Linked DNA regions of Homo sapiens. The protein of the gene in region 1 purifies or fractionates together with the protein of each later gene. This does not show direct contact. Each region holds a gene or a part of one and is shown on either strand. Other genes may lie near its edges.

Region 1 (3,972 bases):
CAAACATTTTACTTAAATTCCTCTATACAATTTAGGGCTGGCAGAAAGGGTAGACTATTACAATGTAGCTGAGCAAATTTTTCCATGTTTGCATAACATGTGTTTTCAACTAAAGATACTCCTTCTATAGTCCTACTATATACAACACCCCAAAAAACCTCAAATGTAAGAAAAAGCAATGTGACAGATTTGACCCTGGCCAAGTTACACTGTTTTTTTTTTTTTTTTTTTTTTTTTTTTTTTTTAAGTGTCAGTGTTCATAAAGGCCCTTTTTCTTTTTCAAGGATGGGTATAAAGTGTTACTCGGCCGAACGCGGTGGCTCACACCTGTAATTCCAACACTTTGGGAGGCCGAGGCAGGTGGATTACGAGGTCAGGAGTTCAAGACCAGTCTGGCCAACACAGTGAAACCCCCGTCTCTATTAAAAATACAAAAAATTAGCTGGGTTGTGGTGGTGTGCCCCTGTCACAAGGTAGTCTTGACGAATCACTCTGCTCTCTCTCTCAGTTTACTGAGGCTGCCTGGGAGCTGTCAGCCAAACAGGAAGAAGGGCCCTTCTGCCTAACTCCAAAAGGCCTAAGTCAAATGGATATGGTGAGATTTAATGATGGATATAAATTACAGCAAATGGATTTCCTATAGAGTGAGGGAAAAAAAAAATCCAGCTACTCCGGAGACTGAGGCAGAATTGCGAGAACCCGGCAGGTGGTTGCAGTGAGCCGAGATTGTGCCATTGCACTCCAGCCCGGGCGACAGTGTGAAACTCTGTCTCAAAAAGAAAAGAAAAGAAAAAAAAAAAAACTATTACTCCACTCCCCACCAGAAACTCTTATTTTTTCCCCCCTATGTGGTCATGAATTCCTCCTGGGTGCATAGCTCCCTAAGTTGTTCTGTGTTTTAGTGCTTATAATTTCCCACATCCCATGATGCCCCTTGATAGAATTATTTTTTCTGTACTCACACAAATGGAAACAGAAGAGATGAAAAACCCTGGGGATGCGGCCTCGCAGGTCTCAAACTGATCGGCTGCTAAGCACAACCTGCATATCTCTTGGCTGAGTTCCTTTCTTGGCTCAGTTAGATTTTGCATGACCTAGGAGGCTTAGGACCCAGGGGGCGCCTTTCAGCTGAAAAACAGCTCGCGCTGCAGCAAGCTAGCTGGGAAGCTCCCAGTTCTAAAGAGAGGCTGTTTACCAGAACAGCATAACAAGGGCAGGTCTGACTGCAAGGCTGGGACTGGGAGGCAGAGCCGCCGCCAAGGGGGCCTCGGTTAAACACTGGTCGTTCAATCACCTGCAAGACGAAGGAGGCAAGGATGCTGTTGGCCTGGGTACAAGCATTCCTCGTCAGCAACATGCTCCTAGCAGAAGCCTATGGATCTGGAGGTGAGATTACAATCTTTCCTTTCCGCAGCAACTTCATGAAACAGAAGGGGTAAAGCCCCCTATTTCCCAAACAGGGCCAGGATGACAGGAAACGAAGCGTTTAGCCGGTTTCTGTTGTCCCGTGAAAGCTTTTCCACCCCTCCTTTCCTTGTCAGGGGCTTGCAGCTCCATCTTTGCCATTAAGAACAAAGGCAAGAAGCCACTTTCTCTCTGCCTTTCCTTGCTCATGAGTGGATGGAGCTTGGGGGTTCATCTCCCCTACTCCCCAAGTCCTGTTCTTTCTAAGCCCTTTGCATGGTGTGGTCCTCCTTCCCCAGCCTCCTTCTGTGGTTCTCCTGCAGAGGGGAGTGGGAGCTTGGAGTCTCATCCAGTCAGCGATGAGGCCGGTTTCCTCCGTTTGAGGCTGTCTTGAATCTTTTGCCTGACGGAGTCAAGGCTCCTGGAGAATTCTCCTGGGAGGGAGTATTTGCCTTTTAAACGGGCAGAAGGTGGCCGTATCCGTGAAGGAGGAAACACCGGAGTTTATGTAACGTGGCCATTACAACACAGGGACAAATGTCACGTCTGGGCGCCCCCCGTCCCAAAACTCCCAGCTCCTCAAAGGGACCCTAAGCCAGGCCTCCTCCTCTCCATCTCCTCCTCCAAAGTGGTCACAAGTTCAAGAGTAACAACGCTTTGCACTTCTGCAGCGCTTTCCAGGTTTCAAAAATAAATAAAACCTAACAGTCTCTGAGCGTTGACTGGGGGACAGGCACAGGCTGGGGGCTTCACACCCTGAGGTGTGCGTGGAGTTGGGGGGGGGGGGTGCGTGGGGCGTGGGGGTGTTGCCACGAGAGGAGAGGGAGGCCCAGCAGGGCCCGGGGTCCCCTAACCAGGCTGAGGTTCAGCCCGGGTGGTCCCGGCTCCCCTGTCCGCCACGCTGGGCGTCTTCCGTTCGCTGCCCGCTATTCTGTGTCCGGGGGCTTCTTTTCCTCACAGGCTGTTTCTGGGACAACGGCCACCTGTACCGGGAGGACCAGACCTCCCCCGCGCCGGGCCTCCGCTGCCTCAACTGGCTGGACGCGCAGAGCGGGCTGGCCTCGGCCCCCGTGTCGGGTAAGTGTCCTCCGGGGGACGGCCCCGGGGCTGGCGGGCGGCGGCCGCGTTCCCGGTGCCAGCCCCGGCACACATTTCCTTCTCTCCTCTCTTAGGGGCCGGCAATCACAGTTACTGCCGAAACCCGGACGAGGACCCGCGCGGGCCCTGGTGCTACGTCAGTGGCGAGGCCGGCGTCCCTGAGAAACGGCCTTGCGAGGACCTGCGCTGTCCAGGTACCTGCCCGGGACCCCGGGAATCCCCGCTCCTGGCGCTGACAGGAAGCGGCTGAGACACTCGTGGCGCACGTGCGGCCGCGCGATGCCGGCCGGCCCCGCTCCGCCTCCGCGCCGTCCGATTGGCCAGGGCTGTCTCCAGGCCGCGGGGCTCAAAGCCTATTGGCCGCCGCCGCCACTCGTATGAGCTCATCCGCCGCGAGCGCTTGTAAACAACTGCGCGGGGCGAGGCTGGGGTGAGGCTAGGTCTCTCCGCCGCGCGTCCTGAGGAGTGGCTTTTGGCCCCTCAGCGTTTATTGACCGTTTGCGGAGCGTCTGCAGTGTGCTAGACCCACACTGCTCACAACCCCAGCTCCCCAACCTCCCCTGACACACACCGCGGGAAGAAGTCGTTTGAGGCATCTGAGCTTCAGAGAAGTTAAGCGATTTACCAAAGGCAATGGCAGGGGACAGATTTGAATTCACGTTTCTTAGATTCCAGAGCGCAGGCTTTTTGCTCCCAAAGCAGCAAGAGAGTTTTCTAGGTTTAAATGGGATAATCAAAATAAAGCATTTATTTTTTATTTTTTATTTTTTGAGACGGAGTCTCGTTCTGTCACCCAGGCTGGAGTGCAGTGGCGCAATTTCGGCTCACTGCAACTTCCGCCTTCCGCGTTACAGTGATTCTCCTGCCTCAGCCGCTTGAGTAGCTGGGATAACAGGCGTGCACCACCACGCCCAGCTAATTTTTGTATTTTTAGTAGAGACGGGGTTTCACCATGTTGGCCGGGCTGCTCTCTAACTCCTGACCTCAGGTGATCCGACCGTCTGGCCTCCCAAAGTGCTGGGATTACAGGCGTGAGCCACCGCTCCCGGCACAAAGTAAAACATTTTACCTAAGGACTGGCACAGAGCGTACGCTTAGATGTGAGCTGCTCAAAGGAAGCATGGGTTGTTTCCTGAAGTAGAAGTGGGGGGAATCCCCTGCAGAAGAACGCAACCGAGAGGGGCCTTGGGAAATAGCAAGGATTTGGACAGATAAAGACGTGGGAGGTAGGAGAGAAGCCCTTCCCTACGGCCTTCCTCTCTCATTTGCCTTGTCCCTGAGATGGTTCAGCCCTCTCAGGCCTGATCTTACCTCTGGGGCAGAATTTGACTTTGGGTTGTGTGTGGGGGGAAATTCTTAGGTGACCCACCTTCATCTACCCTAACACTCAGGCCAGGTTCAGCTGTGGAATTCACTCAGGGCAGTCCCTGATGAGAGCTGTTTCCCACCTCATCTCCAGAGACCACCTCC
Region 2 (4,031 bases), on another chromosome or scaffold:
GAAAGAAATAGATTAATTCTTTGTTTAGGGAAAAAAAAAAAAAAAGAACGACTTATGCTAAGACATCTGTACCAATCTTCCTGAATAACTAAGTTAGGGAGGAAAGACAAATTTGGTGACTGTGGGGGCTAAAATACTAACTTATGGTCCTCTGAAATAGAAGGCGGTGCCTGATGGACATAGGTATCTCCGGTTACTTGGTTTGGCTGGGCGGTAGCAATTAAAGCTAATGGTTTTCCCAACTACACCCAAGCGCTAGATCTTTCTTTTCCTTCTGGCTCTACCTCTCTGATACTTCCCCGCACTGGCTTTTTGGGGCCAAAGAAAGTTGGGGCCCTCCTTCTCACTCTTCAGACCCCAGGGTGTCCAGCTTGGGTTTCGTTCGGCCGAGCTCCTTGACCCCCCGCGCCCGGGAGGGGATTGGCCTCTCAGCGAATCGCCCCAGGCCTCTGGGGACCCCAGTTCGCCAGTCCAGGTCGCCGGCCCTGTCACCGAGGCCTAACCCAAAAAGCTCGCGTCGTCCCCTCTGGAAAGCAACGCAGCTTCCTCCTTGGGCACAGTCCCCGCACCCTGGGTCCCGGCTGGTGCTGCGCCGGGTCCCTAAGACTTTGACTGGTTAGAGCAGGCGACGCCGAGAGCCAGGCCGCCTACAGGCGTCTCCAGCCCTACCCCATCGCCGGCTACAGAGCGGGAGCCCCGAGCCCCAGCGCCGCGCCGCGCGGGGAGAGAAGCAGCTGTTCCCAACAGCTGGGGGGCGGCGGCGCCCGGCGCCCCAGGTGCTGCCGCGGCCAATCGCAGGCGTCCGGCCCGCCCCCCTCCCCAGCCGGGCGTCGACCCCCGGCCCGCGGGGGAAGGGAGCAGAGAGGTGGAGAGCTGTCCTCGGCACTCGTCTTCCAGATCCCACGGCGGGAGGGACAGACCAGAGCCGAAGCTGCGCGGAGTTCCTCGCCCCTGGCCCCGCCGCCGCGCCCCCCGCCCGCTTCGGCGCTCGGACGCTCTTCCCGCGGACCCTCCCCACACCCCACCCAAGGCACCTGATTCCTAAGGAAGAAAAATCTACCTCTAAAGCACCCGCTTCTTCGCTTGAGAACTACCCTCTCTTTTCATTTTTGGCCTCCCCGCCGGGTGAGTGGAAACCGCTTGCACATTCTATAGAACCCGATTCTAATCCAGACGATCCGGAGAATTTGTACGGTGACCGGCAGGGGGGGCGGGAGGAGAGAGCGAAGTCAAGTCTCCAGGGCCGCTGGCGACTTCGGAAGCCGCGCGCCCGGCGCTCTCGGCCGCCCCCGGCCGCTCGCCCCCGCCGCGCCGCCGCCCTCGCCCCCGGGCTCGCCCTTGGCCCCCGGCGGCCGCGAAAGGGTGCGGGAGACGCGGAGCCGGAGGAGGAGGCGCAGCCGCTGCCCGAGCCGCAGCCGCAGCCGGAGCCCGAGCCGCGGGGCGGGTGCGAAGATGCACACGACCCAGAAGGACACGACGTACACCAAGATCTTCGTCGGGGGGCTGCCCTACCACACCACCGACGCCAGCCTGCGCAAGTACTTCGAGGTCTTCGGCGAGATCGAGGAGGCGGTGGTCATCACCGACCGGCAGACGGGCAAGTCCCGGGGCTATGGATTTGTAAGTTGCACGGACTGGGGGTGACGGGGAGGGACGGAGTGGCGGCTGACCCCGGGGATCGGGAGCTTGGAGTGAGGGGCTCGGCGTGACCCGTGAGGAGCCCCGCGGGTAGAGCGGCGCTGCCCCTTCGCTCCGGGGTGAACTGAAACTTTGCTAGGGGAGAGGGTCGGCGCCAGCCTCGCGGGGTTCGGAGAAGACCCAGCGCTGTGCGAGGTCGGGGGCCGGGCAGGGCAGAGCAGGGGTGAAAGGAGAGACCTGTAATGACGGCGGGATTTGGGGTGCGGAGGGTTGCGAGGGAGGGGCCGCAACCCTGAACAATTGCATTCCCGGGCTGGATGCCGGTTGTTAAGCGCGCTGTTGCTTTGTAAAAATGCGTGTGTTCTGGTGTTTTGGCTGGGGCAGGGAGGGGACACCCCACGAGGTCTGGGGCTGTTGCCCTTGTGTCATCCCCCCGCCTTTTAACTGCAAAGGTAGGTTCTTTTAAATCATGATCCTAGGGCTCTTTGCCGAACTGAAACAGAGCATATTAAGCTTCCTTCCTAGAGATTTAAGCGTGCAAATTCAGCTGCCGAAGAGCAGGGAGCCCCAGAGTAGGACAATAGCTATTGTCGTTGGGGAGTGTTTTCGAGGTTGGGAGCGTTGGGCGGATGTAAGGCTGGACTTTCTTTAAAGCAAACGGTGCCTCTGAGGCTGAGTAGGGACCTGGGGGGCGGGGGATTCGGGGGAAGGAGGATCTAGAGTTCCAAGAATTTAGGCTTCCAAATCTCGGCTAGGCCCTACTAACACCCTTAAGATTTCGGCGGTGGGGTGGGGGGAGGCAGGGTTAGAGGGTTTCTTTCTTTTTTCCTTCGTCTACCCGCCCCCCCCCCCCACGCCCCCGCCCGCCTGTTAAAAATGGGAGATCAAGGAGGAGGGTCCAGCCAAAAGAAGCAAAGAATAGAAAAAAAGTTTGATCTCAGTTTTATCATGAATGACTTCTCCATTGTGATTCTTGATTTCCTTCATGGGTTAATTTAGAGGTTATGTATGTATGTCTGTGTGTGTCTGTTGCTAAGGTCACCATGGCTGACCGGGCTGCTGCCGAAAGGGCCTGCAAGGATCCCAATCCCATCATTGATGGCAGAAAGGCCAACGTGAACCTGGCATACTTAGGAGCAAAACCAAGGATCATGCAACCAGGTGAGAAATGTCTGTCTCCCCTACCCCCCTCTCCAAGAACCCCCCATTTATGGGTGGGATGATTCTCTAATTTAGAAGACATTGTCTCTTTCTGTAGATGTGTTTAGTAAACTTGAACCATGGCTTGTTATTCTACCAAGGCATTAAACATAAATGAGAGTTGTAAATACTCCTCTCAAGGCTTGAAATGTACCTGTGTGCAAAAATGGATCTTGGGGGTCGTGCAGGAAGAAGAGTTAGTCATGTCTCACCTGTTTCCTATATGGCATACATTTGTAGTCTGCTCTCAATTTTCCAATTTTTAGCCACCTGTAGATAATTCACATGTGGATTATATAGGCCAAATTTGTCGACTTCAGCTAATATACTTCCCTACTTAGTGGTGTCTCTCCTTTTAGCACCAGTTGCACTGTGCTCAGAGCAGGCAGTCTGACTTGAACACAGACCCAAGGGAAGCATTAAGGGGTAGGGGCGATGTCCAAATGGTAAAGGTTTTGTTTTTTTTTGAGATGGAGTTTCGTTCTTGTTGCCCAGGCTGGAGTGCAATGACGCGATCTAGGCTCACTGCAACCTCCGCCTCCTGGGTTCAAGTGATTGTCCTGCCTCAGCCTCCCAAGTAGCTGGGATTACAGGAATGTGTCACCACACCCAGCTAATTTTGTATTTTTAGTAGAGACGGGGTTTCACTGTGTTGGTCAGGCTGGTCTTGAACTCCTGACCTCAGGTGATCCACCCGCCTTGGCCTCCTAAAGTGCTGGGATTACAGGCGTGAGCCACCGCGCCTGGCCCAAAATGGTAAACCTTCAACATAAAATCACAGAGTATTAGCAATCAAAGAAAACAGAAATTGCACCTACTCAAGAACCCTATGCTACAGACAAAGAAACTGATGCTTAGAGATGAGAAATATTTTACTTAAGTCATGTAGCTATTAGTTGCCAAAAGGGAGCAGTTTTTTGTCTATGGGAAAACAATACCTCTTGGATTATTTACAACACTGCCCTTTGCATTAGCACAAATAGTTGAGAGTTGATTTTTAAGCAAATATAATATTTTCTTTGGTCAGGCAACTTTACTTGTAAAGTTTGATTAAATCATATACTCTTCACTCCTAAGCCTTTCCATCTGAAATTTTGGGAAGAGGTTGACACTTCCATCCAAACGGGTTTAAAAGGAAACTAGGTTGTCAAGAAAATGAGTGTTTGTGCAAATATTCATGGGCGTTAAAAAAA
Region 3 (3,500 bases), on another chromosome or scaffold:
ACATATTTGAGGGCTCAAGCATTTTTCAGGGCCCAGCTCTGTTGCGTGCAAAATGGATCAGTATGTTGCTTTCAAGGTGGAACATCTATTGTAGCTGCCTAAACCACATAATTTGAGGGGCACAGATGCCCCTCTTCACCCCAAATATCTTGCTTAGAGTTGCGGTGCATTTAGACTGTGCTTTTAAGGCATTATCTCCACAAAGCTGGTGTAGAAATACAGATACGTGACCTTACCTCAGTATTTTTTCATTATCACAGTAACATGGATGAACTTGCCAGATGAACAGGAATTCAGCAGAGGGTCGAGGGATGAGAAATCTTAAAAATTTAATTTGTATTTTTGGTGTGGAGAAATGGAAACGGTCTAGAATGTAGGGCAGTTGTCTGAAAAGGTCTAGAGGGACCAAATAGCTGGGAGAAGTTTGCCCCAAATGGTTAAGGTGGGTGCCAAGGTGCCACCTTCTCTGACCTCACAGTTCCCCAGCTCAGCTCTGATCCCCAGGGACCAATGAGGTGCCAAAGGGTAAGGGCTCTTTGGAAGGAATTAACGAGGCTGGGAGAAAAATAGAGAAATGATGGGGGCCCCTTACAAGAGAACTTACGAGTATAAGAAGAAGGCAGTGGGGACTCAAAACTGATCAAGTCATTTGGTTTATATGCAAGTGCCCTCAGGGCCACTGAGGCACCTGGCAGAAATGCCCATGCCCAGTGCTTTTTTTTTTTCCTGAGACGGAATCTCGCTCTGTTGTCCAGGCTGGAGTGCAGTGGCACAATCTCGGCTCACTGCAACCTCCACCTCCCAGTTTCAAGTGATTCTCCTGCTTTAGCCTCCCAGGTAGCTGGGATTACCGGTGCCCGCCACCACACCTGGCTAACTTTTTTTTTGTATTTTTAGCAGAGACAAGGTTTCACCTTGTTGACCAGGCTGGTCTCAAACTCCTGACCTCAGGTGATCCACCCGCCTCGGCCTCCCAAAGTGCTGGGATTACAGGCATGAGCCACCGTGCCCAGCCCCAGTGCTTTATTTCAGCAAGAAACACTTACTAAATTCTTACTGTGTGTCAGACTCTATCTTAGAAGCTGGAAACATAACAATGACATGGACTCTGAACTCATAATTTCTAAACAAAGGAACATGCAGATAAATTTTTAGCTTGTGTTAATGCAACCTGGCATGTGAAAATACCTATGAAGGCTGGACACGTGTCATGCCTGTAGCTGGAACTCTTCAAGTTAATTGCCTTATTTTCCTGGCAGGAAACAGCTTATAACCACACACATGACTTGAGCCAGGAAGTCAGCTTCAGCTTAATCAATATTTAGAGTGTGATGTGTTGCTAATCAGTGTTGGTTTTGTGCATAGGAAAGGTAGCCACGACTCGTGGTGAATCAGCTGCCCACAGGTCTGCTACAAGCCACCGGATGCCAGCTTCCTTCATTGCATGGGTGCCTCAAAGCACCTTCTTGAAGGGTTTAGACCATGTTCTGCACAGGCCATGCAGGGTGATTTTGAGGCCCTCTTTGGGGCCAACACACCCTCATTAACTTAAGGAAACATTGCCCCACCCCGAAGTTTCTCTTCTCTTGTACTCCAGCTGTCATTCAAGCTTCTCCTACTTGTCAAACAATCCATCTCAGTCCTTAAAATTTGATCTCTTTGCCTAGCTTAACTTCATGTTATCCTCTGACTTAGATCTTTTCTGAAAGAAACAATAGCAAAATGTCAACACTCTCCACCAGGGAACCTTTTAGAAAAATACAGAATCAAGCCCCATCAACTACACACATATGAAATGATGCCCAGTTGAGCTATTCACCCCGTTTCTCCTATATGAGAACTCCTAACAAAGCATATCTTCTGTCACCTTTTGTTCTTCAAAACTCTATCTGGGATAATAGCTTGATAATTGGCCAGGCGCTGTAGGCTCATGCTGTAATCCCAGCACTTTGGAAGGCCGAGGTGGGTGGATCACCTGAGGTCAGAAGTTCGAGAGCAGCCTGGCCAACATGGTGAAACTCGGTCTCTACTAAAAATATAAAAATTACCCGGGTGTGGTGGCACGTGCCTGTAGTCCCAGGTACTCAGGAGGCTGAGGCACGAGAATCACTTGAACCTGGGAGGCAGAGGTTGCAGTGAGCTGAGATTGTGCCACTGCACTTGAGCCTGGGCGATAGAGGGAGACTCAGTCTCAAAAAAAAAGCTTGATAATTTAGAAAAGCAGTTCGCAAACTATAGGCCTGTGGGCCTGTCCAGTCAGCTGCCTGTTTTTGTAACCAAAGTTGTATGGGACCACGGCCACACCCATTCAGTTATGTGTTGTCCCTATGGCTGTTTCAAAGTGTCCCTGCAAAACCTAAAATATTTACCATCTGGCTATTTTTCTTTTCCCAAGAAAGTCAGCTGACCTCAAATTTAGAATAGCACTATCCAGTTGAAATACAATGTGAACCACAAATTTCAAGCCACATATATCATTTTAAATTCTCTAGTAGCTATGTTAAAAAAGTAAAGAGAGGCCGGGGGCAGTGGCTCACACCTGTAATCCTAGCACTTTGGGAGGCCGAGGCAGGTGGATCACCTGAGGTCAGGAGTTCGAGACCAGCCTGGCCAACATGGCAAAACCCTGTCTCTACTGAAAATACAAAAATTAGCTGGGCATGTTGGCACATGCCTGTGATCTCAGCTGCTCAGGAGGCTGAGGCAGGAGAATCGCTAGAACCCGGGAGGCGGAGGTTGCAATGAGCCGAGATTGCCCTATTGCACTCCAGCCTGGGCGACAGAGCGAGACTCCATCTCAAAAAAAAAAAAAAAAAAAAAAAAAGGTAAGAAGAGCAGGCATAATGAATATTAATGTATTTTATTTAACTCAGTGTATCCAAATATTGTCATGTCAACATACAATTAATATAAAATTTATTAATGAGATATTTTGCAGCCCTTTTTTTTATACAAAGGGTTTGAAATTCAATGAATATTTTACACTTACAGGACATCTCAAATCAGACCAGCCACATTACAAGTGCTTAATATGACTTGTGACTACCATGTTGGATAACATATGTCTAACACCTATATACCTTGGGGTAACTTTTACTGCACCTGAGACTTTGAAACAGGTGAAAATGAAATAATCTTCATATAAGTATATGGAGAGTTTTTTTGAAACAGAATTTGAAGGGACGGCTCTGTGGAGAGTACACGGTGAAATGTGTATATGCCTTCTTATTTTTATTTTTATTTTGGAGGGGACAGGGCCTTACTCTATTGCTCAGTCTGGAGTGCATTGGCACTATCATAGCTCACTGTAACCTTGAATTTTGAGGCTCAAGTGATCCTCCTGCCTTGGCCTCCCAAAGCACTGGGATTACCAGCATGAGCCACAACACCTGGCGTGTATGTATGTCCATTATCCACAATGTTATAAGCATGGACCATCAAACAAAACTGAAACCACACTCAGGGTGCTGCATTAATTAATGAAGAAAAGTGGACTGTTG
Region 4 (2,543 bases), on another chromosome or scaffold:
AGTTTTATTTAGAAATAGTTACTATTTTGGATAGATTCCTTGTTACTTGGGCATTCTTTTCATTCATTGAAGCTGGATTTTTAAATTTTATATTGCTGCTATTTTTAAAATACATTTTATTTATTTTTTTTGCAGATCCGGAGTTCTGTAACTCACTTGTTGTGTGCATCAAAAGATTTCAGTTGGTGGCGTCATAGTCTCATTACAGTGTCTATCTTGGCATTTACCAATTTACTTGTCATCTTTGTCCCAACTATTAGGGATATCTTTGGTTTTATTGGTAAGTTTTAGAAAGTATCCAAGTGGATTCAAACATCAGGGATTTTAAGATTTAAAGAATGAATGACGAGTGGTTCATTGAATCCTCAAGAAACATAAATGTTGTTTTACAGGTGCATCTGCAGCTTCTATGTTGATTTTTATTCTTCCTTCTGCCTTCTATATCAAGTTGGTGAAGAAAGAACCTATGAAATCTGTACAAAAGATTGGGGTGAGTGAAAGATTATAACCATAGAAACAGTAATAATATCATAAATTTCCCCAACTGATTTTAATTTTATTCTCATAGCTGTTATTTGTTATGGTTTCACTTTTAAGTTTCCAGCAAACATTTCTGTAATGGTATACTTCACAGATGGAAGATTGCAGAGGGAAGGGGAAAGATAGTTTGCCATCTAATGAACACTTAAATTAATTGCAATAAAGTTATTAGATACTTTGGAGATAGGAATAGGGATGAAGACTAGATGAGATACTCAGCTTTCAACATTTGTTCAACCAGTTTTCACTGGACTGCCTACTGTGTGACAGGCACTTAAATGGGCATTGAATATATAAAAGAGAAGGAAGGGCTGTTTAGTTGAATGAGACTGACCATCTTCAGAGCGAAGCTCTCAGGGAGGCCGTCTCTTCATGGTGTTTACTATTATGTATCTACTCTAAAGTGTAGTACCAGTTGGTGACAGAGAATGATGTGCTAACCACAAATGATGTGGTTCCTAGAACCAGAATCCTGGTGGTGATATTTAGGAAAAAGACTGCTTTTTAGTCATTATTTTCTCCTTCATTCTGCTCTGATTAAAGTACTAGAATTGTTTATAAACCAACAACTGTCATCTTGTTTTACTCTAAATTACATAGTGGCAGTATTGAAGGGTAGGATTTAGGAATTAGTATTTCCTGGAAAGACCTCTGGCTTTGACTTTTGCTGCATTTTAGGATGATTTGGGTTTGATTTTGTGACTTGACTTTCATTCTAAAAAATTGCAAAAAAAAATCCAGTCCAGTTCTATATGAAGCAGTTTGTTTAGCAAGAAAATTCCCTGTCACTTGAGACAAAGGAATGAAAAAGTGAAAAAGTTCAGAAGGCCTCAAAGGTAGTTATTGTGTACTGCAGATAACATACTGATCACTTAGGAGTTTATATTTAGCAAGTTAAATATTCTTTCTATAGATTATATAGTGGATAGATTTTAGTAATTAAAGCACATTTCAAAAAATAGAAGAAATGTTTAGCATATATGTTTTATTACTTGCTGATCAATTTTCTCTATGCTCTTTGCAGGCTTTGTTCTTCCTGTTAAGTGGTGTACTGGTGATGACCGGAAGCATGGCCTTGATTGTTTTGGATTGGGTACACAATGCACCTGGAGGTGGCCATTAATTGGCACCACTCAAACTCAAACTCAGTCCATCTGATGCCAGTGTTGAGTAAACTCAACTACTATGAAATTTCACCTAATGTTTTCAGTTTCACTTCCTTTTGAAGTGCAGATTCCTCGCTGGTTCTTCTGAGTGCAGAATAAGTGAACTTTTTTGTTTTGTTTTGTTTTTTTAAGAAACTTATCTGTATGTTAGAAATGGATATGAACAACAAAACCACGAGTCTCGGGTTAAGGGAAGTGACAATTTTATTCCATTCCAGAGAATGGACAAACTCTTAACTTTTATCAAGCCACATGCTTGGCTGTGTCATTGTTTAACTTGGATATTTTATGATTTTACTTGAATGTGCCTAATGGAACCATTTGATGTGAGAAACAATTCTTTTTAATTTACAGCAAAATATTGAATAACCATTGACAAAAACACTATTATTTTTTGTACCAAAAATACTTAAAGACCTCAGAAGCACTCTTTTACTTTTAAGAAATTGCTTTTTTGAACTTTATTCAGAAGCAGTTATCAATAAATTCCATAAAATAATGTCATTGGTATTTAAAAATGAATATTAATATAATGAAATGGTTTGCCTTTTTGTAGGCATAATAAGCCAAATACTTTTTTACCCAAAATAATTTTTAGAGAAAATGATGTAATGAAAAATTGTACCATGAATTAGGAGCATAGTTTTTTCCATTTAAACGTCACCATTACTTAAAAGATGATTGATTATTGCTATACCAAATCAGATGAACTCTGTTCATCACTTTTCTTCTCTGTCCCCAAACAATTTGGTTCATTCAGACTGAAATGTTTGTGTCTTCAACTTATTAGAATGGAAGATAATGCAGATATTTCTGTGGGAAATAAAATAACTAATT
Region 5 (3,500 bases), on another chromosome or scaffold:
ATCCAGTCTGTCATTGATGGACATTTGGATTGGTTCCAAGTCTTTGCTATTGTGAATAGTGCTGCAGTAAACATACATGTGTATATGTCTTTATAGTAGCATGATTTATAATCCTTTGGGTATATACCCAGTAATGGGATCACTGGGTCAAATGGTATTTCTAGTTCTGATCCTTGAGGAATTGCCACACTGTCTTCCACAATGGTTGAACTAATTTACACTACCACCAATAGTGTAAAAGCATTCCTATTTTTCCACAACCTCTCCAGCACCTGTTGTTTCCTGACTTTTTAATGATTGCCATTCTAACTGGTGTGAGATGGTATCTCATTGTAGTTTGGATTTGCATTTCTCTGATGACCAGTGATGGTGAGCATTTTTCCATGTGTCTGTTGGCTTCATAAATGTCTTCTTTTGAGAAGTGTCTGTTCATATCCTTTGCCCACTTTTTGATGGTGTTATTTTTTTTCTTGTAAATTTGTTTAAGTTCTTTGTAGGTTCTGGATGTTAGCCCTTTGTCAGATGGGTAGTTTGCAAAAATTTTATCCCATTCTGTAGGTTGCCTGTTCACTCTGATGGTAGTTTCTTTTGCTGTGCAGAAGCTCTTTAGTTTAATTAGATCCCATTTGTCTATTTTGGCTTTTTTTGCCATTGCTTTTGGTGTTTTAGTCATGAAGTCTTTGCCCATGCCTATGTCCTGAATGGTATTGCCTAGGTTTTCTTCTAGGGTTTTTTATGGTTTTAGGTCTAACATTTAAGTCTTTAATCCATCTTGAATTAATTTTTGTATAAGGTGCAAGGAAGGGATCCAGTTTCACCTTTCTACGTATGGCTAGCCAGTTTTCCCAGCACCATTTATTAAATAGGGAATCCTTTCCCCATTTCTTGTTTTTGTCAGGTTTGTCAAAGATTAGATGGTTGTAGATGTGTGGTGTTATTTCTGAGGGCTCTGTTCTGTTCCATTGGTCTATGTATGTGTTTTGGTACCAGTACCATGCTGTTTTGCTTACTGTCGCCTTGTAGTATAGTTTGAAGTCAGGTAGCGTGATGCCTCCAGCTTTGTTCTTTTTGCTTAAGATTGTCTTGGCTATGCAGGCTCTTTTTTGGTTCCATATGAACTTTAAAGTAGTTTTTTCCAATTTTGTGAAGAAAGTCATTGGTAGCTTGATGGGGATGGCATTGAATCTATAAATTACCTTGGACAGTATGGCCCAGTGTGCTGTAATTCTTATTCATACATATTCAAATTATCCTTTTAGCCAATGGGAACCTGTGTCCTTTGAAAGCTTCCTATCTTGTATGACAAGATGTTTCAGGATCATTTTGTACATTTCCACTTTAGAAATGGAATTAGCCATTTCTCTAAGAAAACCTTCTTTTAAAAACTTTTTTAAAAATGGGAAAGAGTATTTCAAGACCCCAATCTAGGCACTAGAGATATTCATTGCTTCTCAGTTTGTCATTACTTTTAAGCCTTTTTGGTGGACAGAGCTAGGAAAATATGTGAACAAATATAAAATACTGAATTGTCATTTCACACTGAGTGTTCCTATTCAGATTCAAAGATTAGTTTGTATTTCGGGGTTCTTAATTTCTTCTGTATTACATCTGTATCTTCTTTTCATAACTGAAAATACAGAATTAGTGTATCCATAATTATCATTTGCTTTAATTCTACATTTCACATATAGTAATCTAGGAGTGATGATACGAATATCACCACCACAACCACTTTAGACGAGATCGGGTGTGTTCAGGATGGTATGGCCGTAGACAACAACCACTTTTAATTATTGAAAACTGTTTAAAAATATTTTTTATTTTTTGCATATGCTATTCACATTCTTCCCGATTTTTTTTCATGGTTGTCCTATATATTGTCAGAGCATATAATCATTACATACTATGCTGTCTCTCCTCCAGTCTTTACTTAGTCTTAATTCTGTTAGTAACCGTATATTTAATGCTCACCACTAGTTCTTATAATGATGTTTCTTTAGTCATTTGGATTGCCTCAAGTTTTGCCTCTAGTAAATTCTTTAGGAAAGGCTTAAGGGAATATTCATATTTCATGAATTTTCTTGCTCGTTCATAACATTTTGTCTGTGTTTTTTATATCTAAAGTTTGTGTTTGCCAGAAATAGAATCCTTGGCTCACTTTTTCTTTTCTTGAATATCTTAAATTTGTAACTCATTTTTTTTTTCTGGCAAAAACATTGCTGTTGAAAAATCTAGTGCTTTTTTTTCTTTATCTTACTGGTCATATGATCTTTTAGCCTAAAGCCTAAAGGATTTTTTTAAGTCCAGTAATTTTACTAGAGTGTTTTGTTGGTCATTCTGAGTTGACATTCTGAGGTACATTGTGGGCTCTTTCAAGATGTAGTTTCAAATCTTTTTAAAAAAAATTTTCAAATAAATATTCTTGGATTATGGTTTTTCATATTTGTGCTGTTTCTTTGCTTTGCTTTTCTTCTTCAGGGAATCCTGTTATTCACATTACTTATCTTCAATATTTATCTGTTTCTCGCAAATCCTATGTAACTCTTAATTTCTTACATTTTTTAAAAATAAACAAATTATTAGGAATTATTTCAGATCACTACAGAAAGTTTACTACAGAAAATTTGCAAAGATAGTGCAGAAGTCTGGTGTATCCTTTGCTTAGTATTCCCTAAGATTAACATGTGACATTAGCAGTGTACAAAATTAAGAAACCAACATTGGTACATTAATATTAACTGAACTCCAGACGTTGTTCACATTTCACCAGTTTCTCCATTAATGTCCATTTTCTGTTCCAGGATTCAATTCAGGATATCATGTTGCATTTAGTTCATTTCTTTTTCATTTGTTTTTTAAATATGAAGACAATTGTAGAGTCACATGCAGTTGTAGGAAATAATCAGAGCTCTTTTATACACTTTGTTGTTTCTTCCAGTGGTAACATTTTGCAAAACTAATACATAATATCACAATTAGGATATTGAGATAGATATATTCCCCAGTTTTACTTGTATATTCATTTGTATATGTATGTATGTGTATCATTAAGTTTTGCAGTGTTATATCACCTGTGTAGGTTCCTGTATCCACTGCCACAGTCAAGATATTGAACAGCTGCAACACCACAAGGATCCCTTGTGTTGCCTTGTTATGACCACAGTCACTTCCCACCCCAACCCCTCTCTAACCACTGGTAATCACTCATCTTTCCTCCATTTCTAAAATTTTGTCATTTCAAAAATGTTATAGAAGTATGGAATTGTATAATATGTAACCTTTTGGGACTGGCTTTTTTTCATTCAATGTAATTTTCTGGAGATCCATCTAAGTTGTTGGGTCCATCAGTAGTTCGTTGCTTTTTATTTCTGAGAAGTATGTGATGGGATGTATGTACCAGTTTGTTTAACCATTTGCCTGTATATATCAGTTTGCTTAACCGTCTATTAATAGAAATAAAGCTGCTATGAATGTTTATATACAGCAGGTTCTCTTGTGAA
Region 6 (3,196 bases), on another chromosome or scaffold:
TCTCCCGAGTAGCTGGGACTACAGGCGCCCGCCACCACGCCCGGCTTATTTTTTTGTATTTTTTTTAGTAGAGACGGGGTTTCACCGTGTTAGCCAGGATGGTCTCGATCTCCTCATCTTGTGATCTGTCCGCCTCGGCCTCCCAAAGTGCTGGGATTACAGGCGTGAGCCACCACGCCCGGCCCAGTGGAGGCTTTTCTACTCTGCCTGATGATTGAGTTCAGTTGCAATCTTAGCATTCACGCGGCAACTCAGACTCCAGCTATGAAGCCTGGCCTGGCAGTGGATGAACTTTGTACTTCAGAAATTGGTTTAGGTACATTTATAGTTGCTATTCCGAAGCCCCCAGAACATGCTGCGAGAGACAGAAAGGAACAGCTGGGAAATTCTGGGGCACCCTTGCAGCATACTGACCTAATTTGAAACGAAGATGTTGCCCATGATTTTATCAGTCACCACCCTGGGCATGGGGAAGTGTTACAACACAGTAGACAATAACATTCTTTCCTATAAAATTTTATTTATTACATAAAAAATTCTATACATTTGTTAGACTAAAATACAGTTTTCATTATAATTCTGGCAACTGAGTCAGTACACAGAGAAAACTTAGCATTAGATCAGCACTTTTCTTTCTAGTTCGTATTTCTGCACAAGAAAAACATTTCAAAGCTCCGTTTCATATAGGCTGATTGTTCTCTGAAGCCAGATGGAATTCCATCCAATTCAGAGCTCTTGGAAGTTAATTTCCCAGCAAGATTTGATAACTCCAACTCCAGAAAGTTAATTGCTTAATATACATATTTTTAAAGTCCTCTGAGAGCATAATGCTCCATCTGCAAAGTCTGCACTGTGTCAATAATGACCGTCACAAATACTAGGGCTACAACTGTGTCTGTGGGGCATGTTCAAGCACCTACATGTTTGTTCCCCCACATGAATACAGTGTAGTGACACTGTAATAAGAAAAAAATCCAAAATAATGGTAAGGTAAATGATTCCAAACTATGAATTCATGGAAGGCTTAACTGTGATCCTCCAGTTTATAATGGACAAAGACAAGACAAGATACAAAAATTCATTTTGGCACTATGAAATAGGATGCAAATGGCAAAAAAAAAAAAAGACAAAAAGGCATCAGATTGAGAAATATGTGGCACCAAAACATACTTCTCATGCCACATTACACAGCTGCGAGAAATCAAGACACACCGATGTGTGTTTTCTGCTCATATCACCCCATATGCTGGGCTGGGCTTGACACTGGATGTGAAGACTCAGTGCCTGAGAGATCAATAGCAGGTCCCTACTGTATTGACTGATCTTTAAATTTGGCCGCCTTATTATTCTAGGAGCTCTATTCTAAACTCAAGGAGTTCAGAAAGGCTGTGCCAGCCAGTAAGTAAAGTTGGACCTTTGGTCTTCAGAAGATAGGGTTTTGTCTTTGGTTGTTTTTTGAAGCCCCTGTCATTTTGCTTGATGCCCTTCACACTTTTCTCCCTGCCTTTTTGTTAAAGTTTTTTTCTCCTGTAATAAAATCAGTTAATAACCACTGAACTAACTTCTTTAGATTAAAGCTCTATTAGAAGTGCATTCAGTGGTCCAGAATATTCTGAGAAAGTATAACAACTTCTTTCATTATGGAGCTCTCAGTATCTTTTTATAGGGAAGAAGTCAGAAAACTCCAACAACACAACACAATCTAGTAGCATTAAGGCAACACAGCAGAAGAAAAGTTAACTGTCCCCATGTGATCATCTCTGAAAATCAAAATAGGCAAAAACAATAGGGGCCAAAAACCAAGTTCTGAGCACAGACTACAGGAACCTAGAGGATGGGGGAAAATCTACTTAATAGTCCCTGTTTCAAATCACCAGCCCCCAAAGCTATCCTATTATTGTCACATTCCTGTGGGGTATCTAATACAATTTACAAAAAAAAAAAAAAAGTCACCACCGGATTATCAACATGGTAAATGAAGAAGGAGCTCACATTTTCTAGTGGCAACTAGAATGATCCATGGAACCCATTCTATCTGCCCAATTATTCCCAAGTCTTCTTTTCAATGTCTACTTTTTTTTTACTCATATGATTTAACACATGCTCCTGAAACGACAGTTCAAATTATAATCCTAGCTGACAGGATGGGTGGATCAGATTCATACACGAAGGTCAGAATATTCCCTTTAAGTCTTACACTTCTGTGACAAAAGGGCATATCACATTTAGATACTTAGACTGGACTTACGCCCTTTTCTATCCAACATGGGAATTTCCACCAGTGGTCTCTGCATTTACTACTGTGGAAGGTTCATTAAAACTCTTCTAGGCCGGGCGCGGTGGCTCATGCCTGTAATCCCAGCACTTTGGGAGGCTGAGGCGGGTGGATCACCTGAGGTCAGGAGTTCGAGATTGGCCTGGCCAACGTGGTGAAACCCCGTCTCTACTAAAAATACAAAAATTAGCTGGGTGTGGTGGCACATGCCTGTGGTCCCAGCTACTCAGGAGGCTGATGCAGGAGAATCACTTGAACCTGGGAGGTGGAGGTTGCAGTGAGCTAAGATTGAGCCACTGCACTCTAAGCTGGCGATAGAGCGAGACTCCGTCTCAAAAAAACACCAAAAACAAACAAAAAAAACCCCCAAACTTTTCTAGGAGTGTGGGGTGGGGTAGGGGGCTGACTTTTCTCCTTTCTTCACCAGCCAGTTATATTTCCACTTTCTTCAGCCTGAAAAAGTAGGAAATGGTTTGATGCCTGACTATAAGTCATGAGCCACTGGGATCAAATTTCACAAGAACTTCAAACCCCTTGATGAGTTTCTGCCTGCTTTTTCAAGGGCCCAGGGAGCCTTCCATGTAGATGCAGCACCCTTACCTAATAGTAAGGTGCAGATGTGAAGAAATCCACATGCTTCCCTAAAGAAGATAGAGTAGGTAAGGGACTGGGGGTGGAGTTCTATTGGCAGAGGAATCTGAAGCTGCTCTAGTGGGTGACTGGAAAACACTAAAACAGAACACACCTCCGTGATTTATGCAGGAAGAAAAAACATCTTTTGCATTTCTACCTTCAGCATCTGCTCCTCCAACTTTCTACCAAATTTATTTTTTGCCAACTATGGACTACCCTTGAGTTTGCTAATTTATCATCATCTTCAACTGTTGTTGGAACTGGACATGTTGACAAATATATTTTAAG

Evidence for each region.
Region 2: the proteins of PIK3IP1 (region 1) and RBM24 purify together in Homo sapiens (affinity purification with mass spectrometry; one large-scale study listed by BioGRID and IntAct). This does not show direct contact.
Region 3: the proteins of PIK3IP1 (region 1) and SEL1L3 purify together in Homo sapiens (co-immunoprecipitation; one large-scale study listed by IntAct). This does not show direct contact.
Region 4: the proteins of PIK3IP1 (region 1) and SLC38A2 purify together in Homo sapiens (affinity purification with mass spectrometry; one large-scale study listed by BioGRID and IntAct). This does not show direct contact.
Region 5: the proteins of PIK3IP1 (region 1) and GOLGB1 purify together in Homo sapiens (affinity purification with mass spectrometry; one large-scale study listed by BioGRID and IntAct). This does not show direct contact.
Region 6: the proteins of PIK3IP1 (region 1) and SLC44A1 purify together in Homo sapiens (affinity purification with mass spectrometry; one large-scale study listed by BioGRID and IntAct). This does not show direct contact.

Annotation. Positions count from the first base shown.
Region 1 is NC_000022.11:31,289,689-31,293,660, reverse strand, and holds the start of PIK3IP1 (phosphoinositide-3-kinase-interacting protein 1 isoform 1 precursor), read left to right. Parts: upstream 1-1,172; 5' UTR 1,173-1,316; coding exon 1,317-1,386; intron 1,387-2,364; coding exon 2,365-2,481; intron 2,482-2,576; coding exon 2,577-2,696; intron 2,697-3,961; coding exon 3,962-3,972. UniProt on the Homo sapiens protein: Negative regulator of hepatic phosphatidylinositol 3-kinase (PI3K) activity.
Region 2 is NC_000006.12:17,280,130-17,284,160, forward strand, and holds the start of RBM24 (RNA-binding protein 24), read left to right. Parts: upstream 1-1,231; 5' UTR 1,232-1,452; coding exon 1,453-1,620; intron 1,621-1,934; exon of another isoform or gene 1,935-2,090; intron 2,091-2,571; exon of another isoform or gene 2,572-2,642; coding exon of another isoform or gene 2,643-2,675; coding exon 2,676-2,799; intron 2,800-4,031. UniProt on the Homo sapiens protein: Multifunctional RNA-binding protein involved in the regulation of pre-mRNA splicing, mRNA stability and mRNA translation important for cell fate decision and differentiation. Plays a major role in pre-mRNA alternative splicing regulation.
Region 3 is NC_000004.12:25,852,989-25,856,488, reverse strand, and holds part of SEL1L3 (protein sel-1 homolog 3), read left to right. Parts: intron 1-3,500.
Region 4 is NC_000012.12:46,360,231-46,362,773, reverse strand, and holds part of SLC38A2 (sodium-coupled neutral amino acid symporter 2), read left to right. Parts: intron 1-135; coding exon 136-280; intron 281-392; coding exon 393-490; intron 491-1,564; coding exon 1,565-1,663; 3' UTR 1,664-2,543. UniProt on the Homo sapiens protein: Symporter that cotransports neutral amino acids and sodium ions from the extracellular to the intracellular side of the cell membrane.
Region 5 is NC_000003.12:121,739,742-121,743,241, reverse strand, and holds part of GOLGB1 (golgin subfamily B member 1), read left to right. Parts: intron 1-3,500. UniProt on the Homo sapiens protein: May participate in forming intercisternal cross-bridges of the Golgi complex.
Region 6 is NC_000009.12:105,394,651-105,397,846, reverse strand, and holds the end of SLC44A1 (choline transporter-like protein 1), read right to left. Parts: 3' UTR 501-3,196; downstream 1-500.